2 separate regions of the Homo sapiens genome follow, and region 1 is linked to region 2. The links come from fine-mapping of genetic effects on gene expression. Tissue or cell type: esophagus muscle. Region 2 holds a variant in brackets; the other region holds the start of a gene. All regions are shown on one strand. Distances are between the middles of the regions.

Region 1 (8,104 bases), 74 kb after region 2:
CTGGGTGCAAGGTATACAGGAACTCTCTGTACTATGCAATTTTTCTGTAACCCTAAAATTGTTGTAAAAAATAGTTTTAAAAAATGATTTAAAGTTTTTTAAAACCAAAACAATCCTCATAAAACTAAAATTTATTAAAACAAGAATAAAAGAGAAGAGACAGAGAAAAATTATCTCAGGAATCTTTCTGAAATTCAGATTTCATTCTGAGCTTCCTCAAGACACAGTTCAGCATCCTTTTACAAACACACTGCCAGATCAGATCTGCTAGGAATAAACTAGCAGAGCCCCCAAAGGGAAAGTAAATTTCAATGTGCCTGAGAAAGGGAAAAGAGCAGTAGCTGGCAAACTAACAAATTGGATTACATCTAAATAAGATAATGAGTGTCAGTGTACTTCTAAGCTGTAAACCACTGAGCCAATGTTATCATTACTGCAGGAAAAAGGGAAAGATTCATTTCTTTTGTACATTAATTTATCCCATAAACACTCATGAATTTCAACTCAGTATCAGGAGTCTGCCACAGTGGTACAGAAATGAACAAGACCTACCTTCCTACTTTTGCTAAGGATCAGACAGGGAAGACAGCACCCTTACTAAAGACCAACAGCCACCTGTGAACCTGGAGTGGAAAGTGACAGAAGAGTGAGATAAATTATGTATTTGATCCTCTCTCATCCAAAATACTACAAAAGGAGTATTTAAATAAAGTTTAAAAGAGAAGCAACACTACCACCTAAACTTGGAATAGAGGCATAAATGCTACAAGGACTAAGATGCAGAATGGTATTAAATAGAATTTGTCACTTAAAGCAAAAACAGAAAAATACTTGAGGACACAAACATTTTATTTACTGAGAAAGAAACTACAGTATAGACATTTGTGTACAGACATAATTTGTTTCTTACTCCTGAAAAAAACAAATTAGCATGCAGCTCCTTATTTAAATCTCATGTGGGGCCTCTCTGTTGCTCTCTTCCAACCTCTGGCCTCTCCCACTCAGTCTCCTTTGCTGCCTTTTCTCATCTCCCCAGTATCTAAAGTTTGGAAACCTCAAGGCTTCAGACCTCTTCTCCATCTCCATTAATTTCCAAGGTAATCTCATCCAGTGTTTTGTTTTGTTTTTGAGACAGGATCTGGCTCTGTTACCCAGGCTGTAGTGCACTGGCATGATCTCAGCTCACTGCAACCTCTGCCTCCCCGGTTCAGGCAATTCTCATGTCTCAGCCTCCTGAGTAGCTGGGATTACAAGCATGTGCCACCACGACCAGCTAATTTTTTTGTATTTTTAGTAGAGACAGAGTTTCACCAAGGTGGGAGGATCTCTTGAGGCCAGGAGTTCAAGACCAGCCTGGGCAACACAGGGAGATTCCCATCTCTATTAAAAAAAAAAAAATTGCTGGCTGTGTGGCATTCACCTGTAGTCCCAGCTACTTGGGAAGTTAAGGTGGGAGGGCTGCTTGAGCCAAGGAGTTCGAGGCTGCAGTGAGCTGTGATCACGCCACTGCACTCCAGCCTGGGACAAGATGCTCAAATAAATAAATAAATAAAATACTATCACCTCTCCACATAACACTAGTACTTTTATTTACCTTACCATGCTTTTTCTGTCCCTATCTAATTATTATGTAATATACTTACCAAAATGCAAATTCCACAAGTGCAAAAGCATTGTTTTATCGAATGCTGTATTCCCAGCTCCTACCTAAAACACAGCCTGGTTTATAACAAGTGCCCATTATTACTGACTATTATAGGACATTAGGTAACATGATCCATATTATCACCAATGGTCTTGCAAAATGCTAACAGCTCTATTACCTATATAAAAAGCAAAAAAACAGGCTGGGTGTGGTGGCTCACAACTGTAATCCCAGCACTTTGGGAGGCTGAGTTGGGCAGATCATTTGAGGCCAGGAGTTCGAGACCAGCTTGGCCAACATGGCAAAACCCCATCTCTCCTAGAAATACAAAAATTAGCCAGGCACGGTGGCGGGCGCCTGTAATCCCAGCTACTCAGGAGGCTGAGGCGGGAGAATCGCCTGAACCTGGGAGACAGGATGTTCCAGTGAACCCAGATCGCACCACTGCACTCCAGCCTGGGTGACTGAGACCAGGTCTCAAAAAAAAAAAAAAAAGTGGGGGGAGGCATATAACTTATAGCTTGGTCAGTGGCAGAGCAATGACTGAACCCCAATCTGATTCCAAATTCTACACTCTCTCCATTACATTAGCTGTTAAAGCATGAACATTACATTAGTTAAAGCATGGACTACGAACTCACAGCTCTGTGAGGGGCACTTCTTAAATAGTGAGCGATAATGACACCTATGTCTGCAGCTTTCTGATCGAAAAGGAGCAAAGAAAGATAGAAGAACTAAAGGAACAGAGGGCGTACCAGTAGCCTTGGTTTTGTTGTGACCTCTATAAATCTGGGACCAGTTCTCCTTTCTAAGCCTTCGCGGTAAAATACTGATCACAAGCCTAGCCTCCAATAACTCCCAGGGCCAAAGTAAAGATCAATTCAACAGACGTTGATTAAACCCAAAGGCAATCTAGTCAAGTCATCAAATGCCCTGGGGACAGTTTCCCAGCTCCATCCACTTATTAGTTGTGGGACTCCTGGCAAATTACTTTTTCTATGAATACCTCAGTTTCTTCATGGGTAAAACGTGAAGCTATAGAAAGAACTCACCCCATAGGATTGTTGGGAAGATTAAATAGGCCTTTGGCTGAGCGCGGTGGCTCACGCCTGTAATCCCAGCACTTTGGGAGGCCGAAGCGGGCGGATCACCTGAGGTCGGGAGTTCGAGATCAGCCTGACCAACATGGAGAAACCCCGTCTCTACTAAAAACATAAAATTAGCCGGGTGTGGTGGCGCATGCCTGCAATCCCAGCTACTTGGGAGGCTGAGGCAGGAGAATCGCTTGAACCCGGGAGGCGGAGGTTGAGGTGAGCCGAGATCGCGCCATTGCACTCCAGCCTGGGCAACAAGCGCGAAACTCCGTCTCTAAATAAATAAATAAATGGGCCCTTATGTGTAATGCATTCAGTAGCACCTGACAATTTGTGATCATTCCGTACAGTAAGCCATGACTATTATCATCACGTGCTAGGCCCTGGGATCTAGAGATGAAAAAGGCAAGGCATAACATCTAACGAACGAGCTTACGGTGTCAACGAGGGGCCGGGAAAGTAACTCGGTGCACAGCGAGTGCAAAAACCGAGAAGCGAATGCAGCTGCGCCTGGAGAAGGCGGCTGAGAAGCGATACTTCAGCAGGGTCCTGAAGAATGGGAGCTCCAGAGTCGGGTGGCGGGTGGGACTGGGCTTTCGGATAGATTACGTGCAAATCCGCCAGGACACAGGGAGCGAGGGGCGGGGGGGCGGCAGAGCGCGGCGCCTCACCCTCCCAGCCTGGGATTGCGGCTACTGGACACGAGGGTCGGGAAGCTCTCCTTCGGCGCCGACTGGAGCTTAGCGTGCTGGCGGCAGCAAGAAGCTGAGGCAAGCGGGCCCCGGGCCCTAACGACGCGTCCCAGCCCCTCTCTGGGCCTCGGGTTCCTCCCGGGTAACAAGAGGCCGCTGCCCGAACGGGATTCCCTCAGGCGCCCTAGACGGGCGGGTCTCCGGGCCTCGGACGGTTAACCCGAGCACCTCCCACCTGCCCCTGAGGCCCCACCTCACCACGCTCGGCTCCCGCAGACGCCCGGCTAGTTGCTCCGCGATTGAGCTGCGGCAGCCGCTGCTAAGGCCCTGCGGGGGACGGGGGCGGAGCCCACCCCGAGGCAGAGGGCCAGGCCCCGCCCCCCCAAACTCCCGCCCTTTGGGAGGGGCCCGCCCCTCCAAGTCCTGCACCTATAGGCAGACTGAGCCGGCGCAGGGCCTCCCGCCATGTTGGGTATTGGCAGCCGACTTACTAGAGAGGCCCTGAAGGAAAGGGGGTATTATTTTAAGAATTATAAGATCCCTAGCCAGAAATGGGGACGGTCAGGGTCTCTGGATTCGCGAAAGGGACATTTCGGAAGCAGAAAAGAAAAATTGCCCTCAATCATTTCGCTTTTGGCTTCAGTGTTACATACAGCGCATGTGCAAGGTCACCTGGTTCTAGGTGCGCCTGCGCACAGCTCCACCTACAAACCAGACTACAATTACAACTGCCGAGAAACAAAGGGGCTCGCTGCCACTGGTTAGCGATAATACTGGCAGCGCGACCGGTTTCTGAGGGTTGTTCACCTTGCTGCTCAGACGCTCCGAGAAGCTTCAGGCAGCATAACACTTACAGGCGAGTTACTTACTCAACACTCGGTTTTGTCTGCATGTCTCTGCACAGAGTGTTACCTTTACCTGACTTAATCCGTCCCGGAGCTGCAGTTCTGCTTAAGCCTGACTTCTAGAGAACTTTTTCTTCCCAATAGGACCCATGCGTTATTCCTGTAGCATTTTGTGTATAAATTTTTTTTTTTTTTTTTGAAATGGAGTCTTGCTCTGTCGCCAGGCTGGAGTGCATTGGCACGATCTCGGCTCACTGCAACCTCTGCCTCCCAGGTTCAAGTAATTCTCCTGCCTCAGCCTCCCGAGTAGCTGGGACTACAGGCGCCCGCCACCACGCCCGGCTAATTTTTGTATTTTTAGTAGAGACAGGATTTCACCATGTTGGCCAGGATGGTCTCGATCTCTCTTGACCTCGTGATCCTCCCGCCTCGGCCTCCCAAAGGGCTGGGATTACAGGCGTGAGCCACCGCGCCCGGCCTTGTGTATAAATTGTTAATGCACTTTCTTAGAGTTGTAAACTCCATTTACCTGCCTCACTCTTGCACTCAGTGGTTCTCAATTTTTAGTAGGAATTAAAAACAAAACTGGTAAATGCAGACTCTTGGTTTCCACCCCCAGAGAATCCCTAAACCGGGGGTGGAGTCCAGGAATCTGCATTTTAGAAAGTACCCAGGGTGATTCTGATAATTGGGAACACGTTTTAGGAAGCGCTGCATGAGATTGTGAGCTTGAGCGTAGAGACTGTAATTTGGTCATCTGACTATAGCGCTCAGCACAAGGCCTGGTACAAAATAGGTGCTCAATAAGTGCTGAGTGAATGGGTGAATGAGTGGATAGCTCGAGTGAAACAGCAAGGCTTCAGGTTAATCCACAGCCAAAGGTAACCTGAGAAAGGAACGCTTAAAAGCTATATTTTATCTTTCTCCTGTAAGAACACAAAAAAGATCTTAATAGCTAATTTGAGAAATAGAGAAAGTGGAGAGTAAAAGGGGAAGGAAGGACACGGATTCTGAAAGGCAAACTATCTAGAGAGGGGAAAAGGAACATCTCCAGGCACTAGACAGAGAAAACGATGCAAAGAAGCAGTGGTGTGGGATTCCATCCTAGGGAAATAATCCCACAACAGGCATTGTGCTTGAATGTTCACTGCAACAATATTTGAAATACAAATGAAACAATCTAAATATTATGCACATCAAGCTCTTTTCTGCCTCAGGGCGTTTGCATACACTATGCCAGCTACCTAGACCACTTTTCCCCCAGCTCTTGGCCTAGCTGGTACCTTCCTGTCCTTCAGGTCCCAGCTTAAATGATACTTCCTCAACTAGGTCTTCCCTGACCATGCTATCTAAAGTAATACCCTATACTTTCTAGGATAGTCTTCTGTTTCTTTTCTTTTTGAGACGGGGTCTTGCTTTGTCGCCCAGGCTGGAGTGCAGCGGCGCAATCTCGGCTCACTGCAAGCTCCACCATCCGGGTTCACGCCATTCTTCTGCCTCAGCCTCCCCAATAGCTGGAACCACAGGTGCCCGCCACCACGCCCGGCTAATTTTTTTGTATTTTTAGTAGAGACGGGGTTTCACCGTGTTAGCCAGGATGGTCTTGATCTCCTGACCTCGTGATCCGCCCGCCTCAGCCTCCCAAAATGCTGGCATTACAGGCATGCGCCACCGCACCCGGCCGTCTTCTGTTTCTTTCATAGCACTTTCCATTTATTATTTTGTTTTCCTATTAACATTCCCTCCAAAATTTAAGCTTTGTGTGGATAGGAGACTTATTCCTGGGATTTAGCACAGTCTTACACACATGGTAGGTATCAAGTAAGTGTCCATTGAATGAATGAATCAAGTCAGCCCTAGTGTTACAAAGTTTAATGACATAACATCCATTAGCAAACTAGACAATATTTTTTAAGACTATGAGGAGTCGGCCGGGTGCGGTGGCTCACGCCTGTAATCCCAGCACTTTGGGAGGCTGAGGTGGGCAGATCACCTGAGGTTGGGAGTTCAATACCATCCTGACCAACAGGGAGAAACCCCATCTCTACTAAAAATATAAAATTAGCTAGGCGTGGTGGCGCATGCCTGTAATCCCAGCTACTCGGGAGGCTGAGGCAGGAGAATCACTTGAACCCGGGAGGCGGAGGTTGCGGTGAGCCGAGATTGCACCATTGTGCTCTAGCCTGGGCAACAAGAGCGAAAGTTCATCTCAAAGAAAAAGACTATGAGGAGTAAACAGGTTTCAGACTACCAAGATATACCAAACCAAATAGTAATCTTTGATGTTTGTAAAGGGGGATTCATTCCCTTATTTATTCATTTACCCAGTGGACATTTATTGAGCATTGATTATGTTCTAGTATTGAATAATAATACAATGTAGTAAGGACAAGTTGGAAATTGTATTAAAACATAATAATGTAGTACAACTGGATATTATCTGAGCCAAAGCCCAAAGTGGAATTAGCTGGTGTGTGAAACAGGGATGGGCAGGGGTGGGTGGGAATGGTTTTGAGATGAGACTTCCACCTCAGATCATCAGGCATTAGATTCTCATGAGTGTGTAACCTAGATCCCTTGCATGCACAGGTCTCAATAAGATTTGCCTCCTATGAGAATCTAATGCTGCTGCTGAACTGACAGGAGGTGGAGCTCAGGTGGTAATGCTCGCTTATCTGCTCAACTCCTACTGTGCTGCCAGGGTCCTAACAGGTCACAGACTGATAGTAGTCCATGGCCTGGGGGATTAGAAACCCCTGCCCTAGTGGTTCTGTAGGCATAAGAGTACACCACATCAGTCTTACACAACCTGCAGATGGCTGGGTGCAGTGGCTCACGCCTGTAACCCCAGCACTTTAGAAGGCCAAGACAGGTGGATCACTTGGGCCCAGGAGTTGGAGACCAGCCTGGGCAACATAGTTAGACCTTGTCTCTACAAAAAAATAAAAAAATGAGGTGAGAGGATTGCTTGAGCCCAGGAGGTCGAGGCTGCAATGAGCCGTGATGGCCCTACTGCACTCTAGCCTGGGTGACAGGAGTAAGACCCTGTCTCGAAAAAAAAAAAAAAAGGAAAAAAAAACAGAAAAAAAACGCATTCTGCAAACTGCATGGAGCATTTGAGACGTACAAACAGGTGTTCCTACCTATCACCTGGCTTGGGGCCCAAGAGTCCTATAAAGACTTAAACCAGACAATTCAAGTCTGATCATGTTCAGACCTGTCTGATGAACCAGACTGGGGAGTTCTCAAAGGAGGCTGGATTGGAGGGAAAGGCAATGGATGAGTTGAAAGAAAATCAACCCTGGTCCCTGCCAGGTGAGGGGAACGGTTTCTTCCTTTATATCCTAAATTCCATCTCTAGAAATATGCCTTGTACTCAAACCCTCTCTGAGGGCTATAATATGGATCTTTCCTACACCCAGCCTTGCTCATTATTTATACATATTCCTCCTAGCCCATGCCAAGAGGCCGTCTGGACTAACTGAATTAAAAAATATATATATATATGTATGTGAAATTTCAAAATGAGGTGCTAAATCACTACATATATATTTGTGTATATATATATATATATATATATATATATTTTTTTTTTTTTTTTTTTTTTTCTGTTAGTCTAAAATCTGTTTGAAAGTTCCTAAATCCCTTATCCCAATATAAAGGGGTCTGCAGGTGGAGGATAGATAATTTGTGTGGAGATATTTCTGGCTATGAGTCCCCATTCCTCCTTGGGGAAGATTAAGAGGACATTACTTTTAACCGCTCAAACCAAGTGACTAGGAGAGGGGGCTTCCATGAGAATCTGAGATGCAGAATCCATACCATTGC
Region 2 (8,104 bases):
AAGTGCTGGGATTACAGGCACGAGCCACTGTGCCTGGCCTTCATTTTCTCTTAATGGTAGTGTCTTACCATATAATACATATAGTAATTTTTCTTTTTCTTTTTTTGAGACAGAGTTTCACTCTTTTTGCCCAGCTAAAATCACATTCAGTGGTGCGATCTCGGCTCACCGCAACCTCCGCCTCCCGGGTTCAAGCAATTTTCCTGCCTCAGCCTCCCGAGTAGCTGGAATTACAGGCATGCGCCACCATGCTTGGCTAATTTTGTATTTTTAATAGAGACAGGGTTTCTCCATGTTGGTCAGGCTGGTCTCGAACTCCTGACCTCAGGTGATCTGCCCACCTTGCCTCCCAAAATGCTGGGATTACAGGCGTGGGCCACCGCGCCCAGCCCATATGGTACTTTTTCAAAACCTGGAACTTGACGTTGGTATGATATAATTAACTAGCCTACACACCTTACTCAGATATTTGGGTGAATTGATTTAAAAGCTATACAATATCCAGTGCAGCTTTCCACTAGTTAAGATGAAGAATTTTACTGTTCTTATCCCATTGAATAAAATGTTTTGATTTTTTTTAAAAACCAAAATGTTCTGTTTTTTTCTTAAACTTTAAAAACAACTCAAACATTTTCATTTTTTTACTATCTTTACAAGACTACAATTGAATTAAGGGGGTGGCAGTGGAGATGAAGAAGATGACTTAGAAATAGAAACGAATTAAAAAATGGATTTGAGGCCAGACTCAGTGGCTTATGCCTGTAATCTCAGCACTTTGAAAGGCCGAGGAGGGTGGATCACTTGAGCTGAGTTCGAGACAGGGCTGGCACAGTAAACCCCATCTCTACTTAAAAAAAAAAATCAGCAAGGCTCGGTGGCTCACGCCTGTAATTCCAGCACTTTGGGAGGCCGAGGTGGGCGGATTGCTTGAGACCAGGAGATGGAGACCAGCCTAGCCAACACAGTGAAACCCCGTTTCTACCAAAAAAATACAAAAATGAGCCAGGTGTGGTGTTGTGCGCCTGTAGTCCCAGCTACCTGGGAGGCTAAGGCATGAGAATCACTTGAACCTGGGAGGTAGAGGTTGCAGTGAGCCAAGATTGTGCCACTGCACTCCAGCCTGGGCGACAGAGTGAGACTCTGTTTCAAAAATAAATTAAATAAATAAATAAGCCTAGCGTGGTGGCACACTTCTGTAGTCCCAGCATCTTGGCAAGCTGAGGTGAAAGGATTGCTTGAACCTTGGAGGCAGAGGCTACAGTGGGCTAAGATTGTGCCACTGCACTCCTGCCTGGGTGACAGAGTGAGACTTTGTCCTAAAAAAAAAAAAAAAAAAAGAATTTGGGTATCATAGGAGTAGGAGGAATTAATAACACATGAGTTCTGGTTTCAATAACTGGGTACGTGGTGGAACCATTTGTTGAGATAGAGAAGTTTTGAAGCTGGGTGCAGTGGCTCACGCCTGTAATCCCAGTACTTTGGGAGGCCGAGGTGGGCAGATTACCTGAGGTCAGGAGTTTGAGATCAGCCTGGCCAACATGGTGGAATCCCGTTTGTACCAAAAATACAAAAAATTAGCCGGGCTTGGTGGCACGCACCTGTAATCCCAGCTATTCGGGAGGCAGAGGCAGGAGAATTGCTTGAACCCCGGAGGAGGCAGAAGTTGCAGTGAGCTGAGATTGCGCCACTGCACTCCAGCCTGGGTGACAGAGCAAGACTCTGTCTCAAACAAAACAAAAGAGACAGAGAAGTTTTGGGAAGGGTTGGTTTACAGGGAAAATCCTGGGTTCAGTCTCAGGCTTATTCAGGTGAGATGTCTCTGAGCCATCTAAGTGGCAATTCAGTAGGCTGTTGGATATGGGGTCTAGAGACTACAAGAGAGGATTGAGTTGATGTCACACAACTCCAGAGAGGGCATCACACACAAGTATATTTAAAGTTCCAGGCTGGGGCGGGGTGCAGTGGCTCATGCCTGTAATCCCAACACTTTGGGAGGCCAAGGCGGGCGGATCACCTGAGGTCAGAAGTTCGAGATCAGTCTGACCAACATGGGGAAACCCCGTCTCTACTAAAAATACAAAAAAATTAGCCAGGCGTGGTGGCGGGCACCTGTAATCCCAGCTACTTGGGAAACCGAGGCAAGAGAATCACTTAAACCCGGGAGGTAGAGGGTGCAGTGAGCCGAGATCGTGCCTCTGCACTCCAGCTGGGGCGACAAGAGTGAAACTCCGTCTCAAAATAATAATAATAATAATAATAATAATAATAATAATAATAATAATTTAAAAATAAAGTTCCCGGCTGGGCATGGTGGTTCACGCCTGTAATTCCAGCACTTTGGGAGGCTGAGGTGGGCGGATCACTTGAGGTCAGGAGTTTGAGACCAGCCTGGCCAATATGGCGAAACCCTGTCTCCACTAAAAATATAAAAATTAGCCAGGCGTGGTGGCGCATGCCTGTAGTCCCAGCTACTTGGGAGGCTGAGGCATGAGAATCGCTTGAACCAGGCAGGCGGAAGTTGCAGTGAGCCAAGATCATGCCACTGCACTCCAGCCTGGACAACAGAGCAAAAACTCCATCTCAAAAAAAAAAAAAAAAGTTCCCTCTCAACCCCTGTTTATTTATCCCATAAATATTTATTAAATGATTCTAAGTCTTAGAGCTGCAGAGGTGAAGAAGAGAGACTAGGTCAGCCCCTGTCCTCATGAATCTTACATCCAGTGGAGGTCATTTCGGTGTCAGAGAAAGGGTAGGGTGGTGGCTTTTTTCAGGCAGGCTAAAGGAGGGAGGTCACAATGTGTACTTTGTGATGAGATCTATGATATAACTGGGATGACAGCAAGGCCCCCACTGAGGTATTCCTTCCCCTCTCAGGACTAGCCACATGCTGTCTCTCTGCCCTGGCCTCTTCCACCCCATGCCCAGTCAGAGACCGTTTTGAGGGTGAGCAAATGGATAGTGAGGCAGGAGAGGAGGGGTTGGAAGGAGGTGGAAGGTGGTGGGATGGGGAGTTGTGGAGGCCGACAGGACAGAGGGAAGCTGGTGCTGTCTGTGGCCTCAGCCCCTCATCCTTACAGGTAGAGAAGCCAGTCTACGGCCCACCACGGGAGCCACCGCCTGGGCCAGACATGAAGCGCTGGCAGATTTTTGTCCTGTGGGTCTTTTGGGTGCTCATCCTCTGGCTGATGACCCCCTATCTGGATCTGACACCTGAATCAGCACCCCAGGAAAAACGAATGTACTTGGTACCACAGCATTGCGACTGCCCTTGGTTCAGTTCCGGGAAGTGTGGCTGCCCTTCTGAGACCCTCAACTGCTCCTCCTGCCACCACACAGCCGACGAATGGAACTGGCTTGATGCGTGCTCCAGGAAGACTATGGGGTACCTGATGAGGACAAGAGAGTCTATGACCTCTGACACTGTGCTCTGGTGGTTGGTCAGTGGTCAACACTGGGCCCGGCCATATCCCCCATGCTTTCCGGGCCTCACCCATCTCCCACTTTCCGCCCAAATCCCTGCCCTTGGCCCTGTCTTCACAGCCTCTGGATGGAGATCTCACCCACCCAGCTCTGTTTTCTCTCCCCTGGGCCCAGCCCCCAATCTCCCTCTTGCTGTTTCCAGGGCATGAACTCAGGGAGCGAGCTTGGGAAATTGTGGAGGAAGCTGTTTAAAGGGATTCCCAGGCTCTCGGTGAGCCATTTTGATTTCTATTGTGGGACTTGTGTGCTGTTGGGGCGCCCACAGATCCCGCAGGGCTCCAGCCTTGGCAACGACATCGACCAATACCCCGTGGTTTTCAGGTGGGTGCTGGGGAGAGGGCGGGAGCAGGAAGGCCAGGCCTGCCCCACAGTTCCATCAGTTTCTGCTCCCCTTCCCAAGATGAAGCAGGCCCCAAGTCCAGGGCTTTGAGATGGACGTGGGGAACCAAACCACACACAATGCTTCATCTATCCCAGGAATGCCAGCGACCAGGGCTCCTGGATGCAGCTGGAGATGCTACTGCGGAAGCTCTCTGACCTGGTGTGGACTTCAGATGCTCTAAGTGATAAGGTGATGGAGGTGTCCCCAGACATTCTCTGTGTGGGGGTGAGGGGAGGTCACTGCAGGGAGTAACAGCAGGGGCTCTGGGAAGACCTTCTATTGGCTTACTGGGGACACTTGCAGGACTTTCCCAGGTCTTGTGGCCCAAACTCCCCCACCTCCAATTCTTTCTCAGATTTTGGAAGATGGTCTGGTTCCCTAGTGGAGTGGAAGATAGCAAAGACACGGTGAGGGG[GA/A]ATAGGAAAAGGGGTAGGATGTGGCTGTGGGTTGCTGTGGGAAGGGCCCCAGGTCAGTTCCCTCCCCCTTCCTCCCCAGGTGCAACCAGGACAACTGGCTGTCTTACCAGGGTCAGGGTCATCCCTGGGGCCCAAGGCTTTGTTCTGTGTCTTGCACAACTGTGCCCCGGCAGGAAAGATTCTTGTATCTTCTTCTCTTAAAATTCCTGCTCCTCAATGCCTTCAGCATGGAGTCTAAAGTTTTCTGCCTGGCTTTCAAGACTCTACATGTAGGCCAAGCGTGGTGGCTCATGCCTGTATCCCAACACTTTGGGAGGCTGAGGCGGGTGGATCATGAGGTCAGGAGTTCGAGACCAGCCTGGCCAATATGGTCAAACTCCATCTCTACTAAAAATACAAAAAATAGCCAGGCATGGTGGTAGCCTCATCTCTACTAAAAATGCAAAAAATAGCCAGGCATGCCTGTAGTCCCAGCTACTCGGGAGGCTGAGGTAGAAGAATCGCTTGAACCCGGGAGGCAGAGGTTGCAGTTAGCCGAGATTGCGCCACTGCACTCCAGCCTGGTGACAGAGCGAGACTCCATCTCAGAAAAAAAAAAGACTATACATGTTCTGACTCCTCCCCTTGCCTCCTGTCTCCCAGGCTCCCATAATGGGCTCTTAGAATTCCCCAGACACATGAGCTGCCTCATGCCTTCTCTCGCACCATTCCGTTTGCCTGGAATGCCCTTCTCTTACGTCCTGGGGGTTCCCCTCTCTTCCTCCAATACCATGAGGAAAAGTGAGTTGACATTCTCTTTTTTGGGATCCTCAGTGACTCTAGGAGAGTGTCCAGAGTCTGTTTCCTGGAGGTGAGCTCCAGTCTCCTCCCAGCTCCCAGGGACAACCTGTCATCCTAGATGCTGAGTGAAGGGAGGCAGGGGTGAGGACAGGAGTCTGCCTGCTGACGCACATGTCCCTCTCTTATCCACTAGGTCACCCTCTTTGGATTTGGATCAGAATAGCAAGGAAAGTGTTTCTATCACTGGAAGGAGGATAATCAGACCAAGGGCTCCAAGGAAATACTGCCCACGTCTAGTGCAGGAGCAGAAATCGAAGTCATCCATCAGCTAGCGTGTGGACAAGCTCACTATTCACACAAGCTCAGCCTAGCTGAGTCCATACAAATCCTATTTCTGGGTGGGTAAAGGGCAGGAGGAAATTGTAAGATCAGTCTGGTACTGAATAAAATCCTGGCCTGATTGTCTTACCTGTAACCACAGTGTCTGGGAGGGATGGGCCAGAGGTGCCTTCCAGATCTCAGGGGCAATATTTGAGTTGATTTCTTTGCCTAGTGCCCTGGATCATGTAGGAGGTATAAGTTTAGATTCAATTTCATGCCAAGTGCAAACCCAGACTTTGAGTTGTTGGGGGAGGCTCTTTACCCACTTCGATAAAAGAAGTAAACCTCCTTGTTTCACCCATGCCGGAGGGTGAGGGTTGTTTTTTGTTTTTTGTTTTTTTGCCCAGCTTTTCACAGAAGGTTTAGCATTTTGAGGTTCCCAGTTTTTTTAGGTGCCTCAGTTCCAATTCGCTTTTTTTTTTTTTTTTTTTTTTGAGACAAGAGTTTGCTGTGTTGCCCAGGCTGGAATGGAGTGGCACAATCATGGCTTATTGCAGCCTCGACCTCCTGGGCTCAAGTGATCCTCCCACCTAAGCCCCCTGAGTAGCTGGGACTATAAATGCATGTCACCACACCCAGTTAATTTTAATTTTTGTTTTTGTAGAAAGGGGGTCTTGCCATGTTGGCCAGGATGGCCTTGAACTCCTAGGCTCAAGCAATCCTACTGCCTTGGCCTCCCAAAGTGCTGGGATTACAGGTGTGAGTCACTGTGCCTAGCACTTACCGTGTCACTTCTGCAGCATTCCATTGGTCAGATCAAGTCATAAAGTGATCCAAGATCCAAGAAGTGGGGAAATGAACTGCTCTTCCTAATGGAAAGAGCTGAAGAGAATCTGCCATAATGAGACTACCACAGTGTCAAGGGCCCAGTTGTGTTGGCAGCAGTGGTGGCATTCCAGGTGGGCCATTCCTGGGGTAGTCTTTGGCCATGTTTTGCATCTCATGATAGACTGAGCCTGGTTCTCTAGCTTTTGCATCATCCTGTAAACTACTAAATATTTAGCCGGCGAATTGTTTTTCTCTGAAGTTTACCAGTCTGTTGACCAAGACCAAGAATCCAACTGCTACAGTTAACAAAGAATAAAAAATCAGACTTTTGGCTGGGCACAGTGGCTCAGACCCAGCATGTTGTGAGGCTGAGGCAGGAGGACTGCTTGTGCCTGGAAAATTTCTGCATAATTCACCCCTTAATTTGCATGTAGTTAAAAGTGGGTATAAATAGGATTGCAGAGCTGCTGCTGAGCTGCTAACTCTGGGCACACTGCCTATGGGGTAGCCCTGTCCACAAGAAGCAGTGTACCTCTGCTGCTGCTGTGCAATGCTGCTTCAATACAGTTTGCTAACACCACTGGATCGCATCAGGGCAAAGCCAAGAACCCTCTCAGGCTAAGCCCCAATTTTGGGGATTGCCTGCCCTGCATCAGAGGCATCACTCCAGTCTCTACCTCCAACTTCACATGGCATACTCCCCTGTGTCTTCTGTTTCCAAATTTCCCTCATCTTTTTTTTTGAGATGGAGTCTTGCTCTTGTCACCCAGGCTGGAGTGCAGTGGCATGATCTCAGCTCACTGCAACCTCTGCCTCCCAGGTTCAAGCAATTCTCCTGCCTCAGCCTCTCGAGTAGCTGGGATTACAGGTGCCCGCCACTACGCCTGGCTAATTTTTTGTATTTTAGTAGAGACTGGGTTTCGCCATGTTGGCCAGGCTGGTCTCAAACTCCTGGCCTCAAGTGACCTGCCTGCCTTGGCCTCCCAAAATGCTGGGATTACAGGCATGGGTCATCACGCCCGGCCAATTTCCCTCATCTTATAAACACACTAGTCATTGGATTAGGGCCCATTCTCATCCAGCATGATCTCATTTTAATTTCATTGTATCTGCAAAGGCCCTACTTCCAAATAAGGTCACATTTATAAGTATCAGGGGTGAGAACATAAAGATTTTTTTTTTTTAAAGTAACACAATTCTACCTCCTGCAAGCAGAATAATGGCGTTTCTAGACATGCAAACTTAGAATGTTTTATCTCCTACACACCCTTTCTTAGAAAGTTACCACGAACAAAAGGCCGGGCACAGTGGATCATGCCTATAATCCCAGCACTTTGGGAGGCCAAGGTGGGTGGATCACCTGAGGTCAGGAGTTCGAGACCAGCCTGACTGATATGATGAAACCCCGTCTCTACTAAAAATACAAAAATTAGCCAGGCATGGTGGTGCACGCCTGTAATCCCAGCTACTCAGGAGGCTGAGACAGGAGAATTGCTTGAACCCGGGAGGCAGAGGTTGCAGTGAGCCGAGATCATGCCATTGCACTCCAGCCTGGGCAACAAGAGCGAAATTCTGTCTCAAAAAAAAAAAAAAAATTATCATGAACAAAAAAAGGTAGTCTTAGTTCATTTACAAACTCTATAGGAAATATTTATCTAGTTACAATAATGTAAACACTAATAGTAGATTGTTGACTTTTAGAATTAAATTAGCCTGTATTTCTGTACCATCCAATATGATGGATGAGCACTTGAAATGCGGCAAATGCAAGTGAGGAAGGAATTTTTAAATTTATTTTAATTAATCTAAATTTCAAAACAATTCAGTTCTTAGAAAACTTTTCACTATGCTTATTGTAACTTGGGTATGTAAATCTTTTTTGACTGTAAAATTTTAT

Direction of the effects. Positions count from the first base shown, and alleles are read on the strand shown. Sizes are in standard deviations (SD) of each study's normalised expression.
With allele A in place of GA in region 2, the expression in esophagus muscle of the gene that starts at base 3,329 in region 1 is higher (moderate effect, 0.63 SD a copy in GTEx).

The links. PIP is the estimated chance that this variant, and not a neighbour inherited with it, causes the effect.
Region 1: CEP250 starts here. The variant in region 2 is fine-mapped to the expression of CEP250 in esophagus muscle (GTEx, PIP 0.98).

What each region holds. Positions count from the first base shown.
Region 1 is chr20:35,450,823-35,458,926 of GRCh38, reverse strand. CEP250 (centrosomal protein 250) reads right to left here and starts at 3,329. Exons shown (of 35, transcript NM_007186.6): 1 at 3,176-3,329; 2 at 553-623. MIR1289-1 (microRNA 1289-1) reads left to right here and starts at 4,830; the gene lies at 4,830-4,973. It also overlaps a transcript of GDF5 not described here. RefSeq lists a silencer at 3,535-3,914 and enhancers at 3,935-4,084, 4,345-4,394.
Region 2 is chr20:35,524,398-35,532,501 of GRCh38, reverse strand. C20orf173 (chromosome 20 open reading frame 173) reads left to right here and starts at 2,850. Exons shown (of 6, transcript NM_001145350.2): 1 at 2,850-2,943; 2 at 3,078-3,437; 3 at 3,623-3,801; 4 at 3,958-4,051; 5 at 4,218-4,269; 6 at 5,252-5,523. The coding sequence starts at 3,129. The coding sequence ends at 4,244. The variant GA/A (reference allele first, on the strand shown) is at 4,278.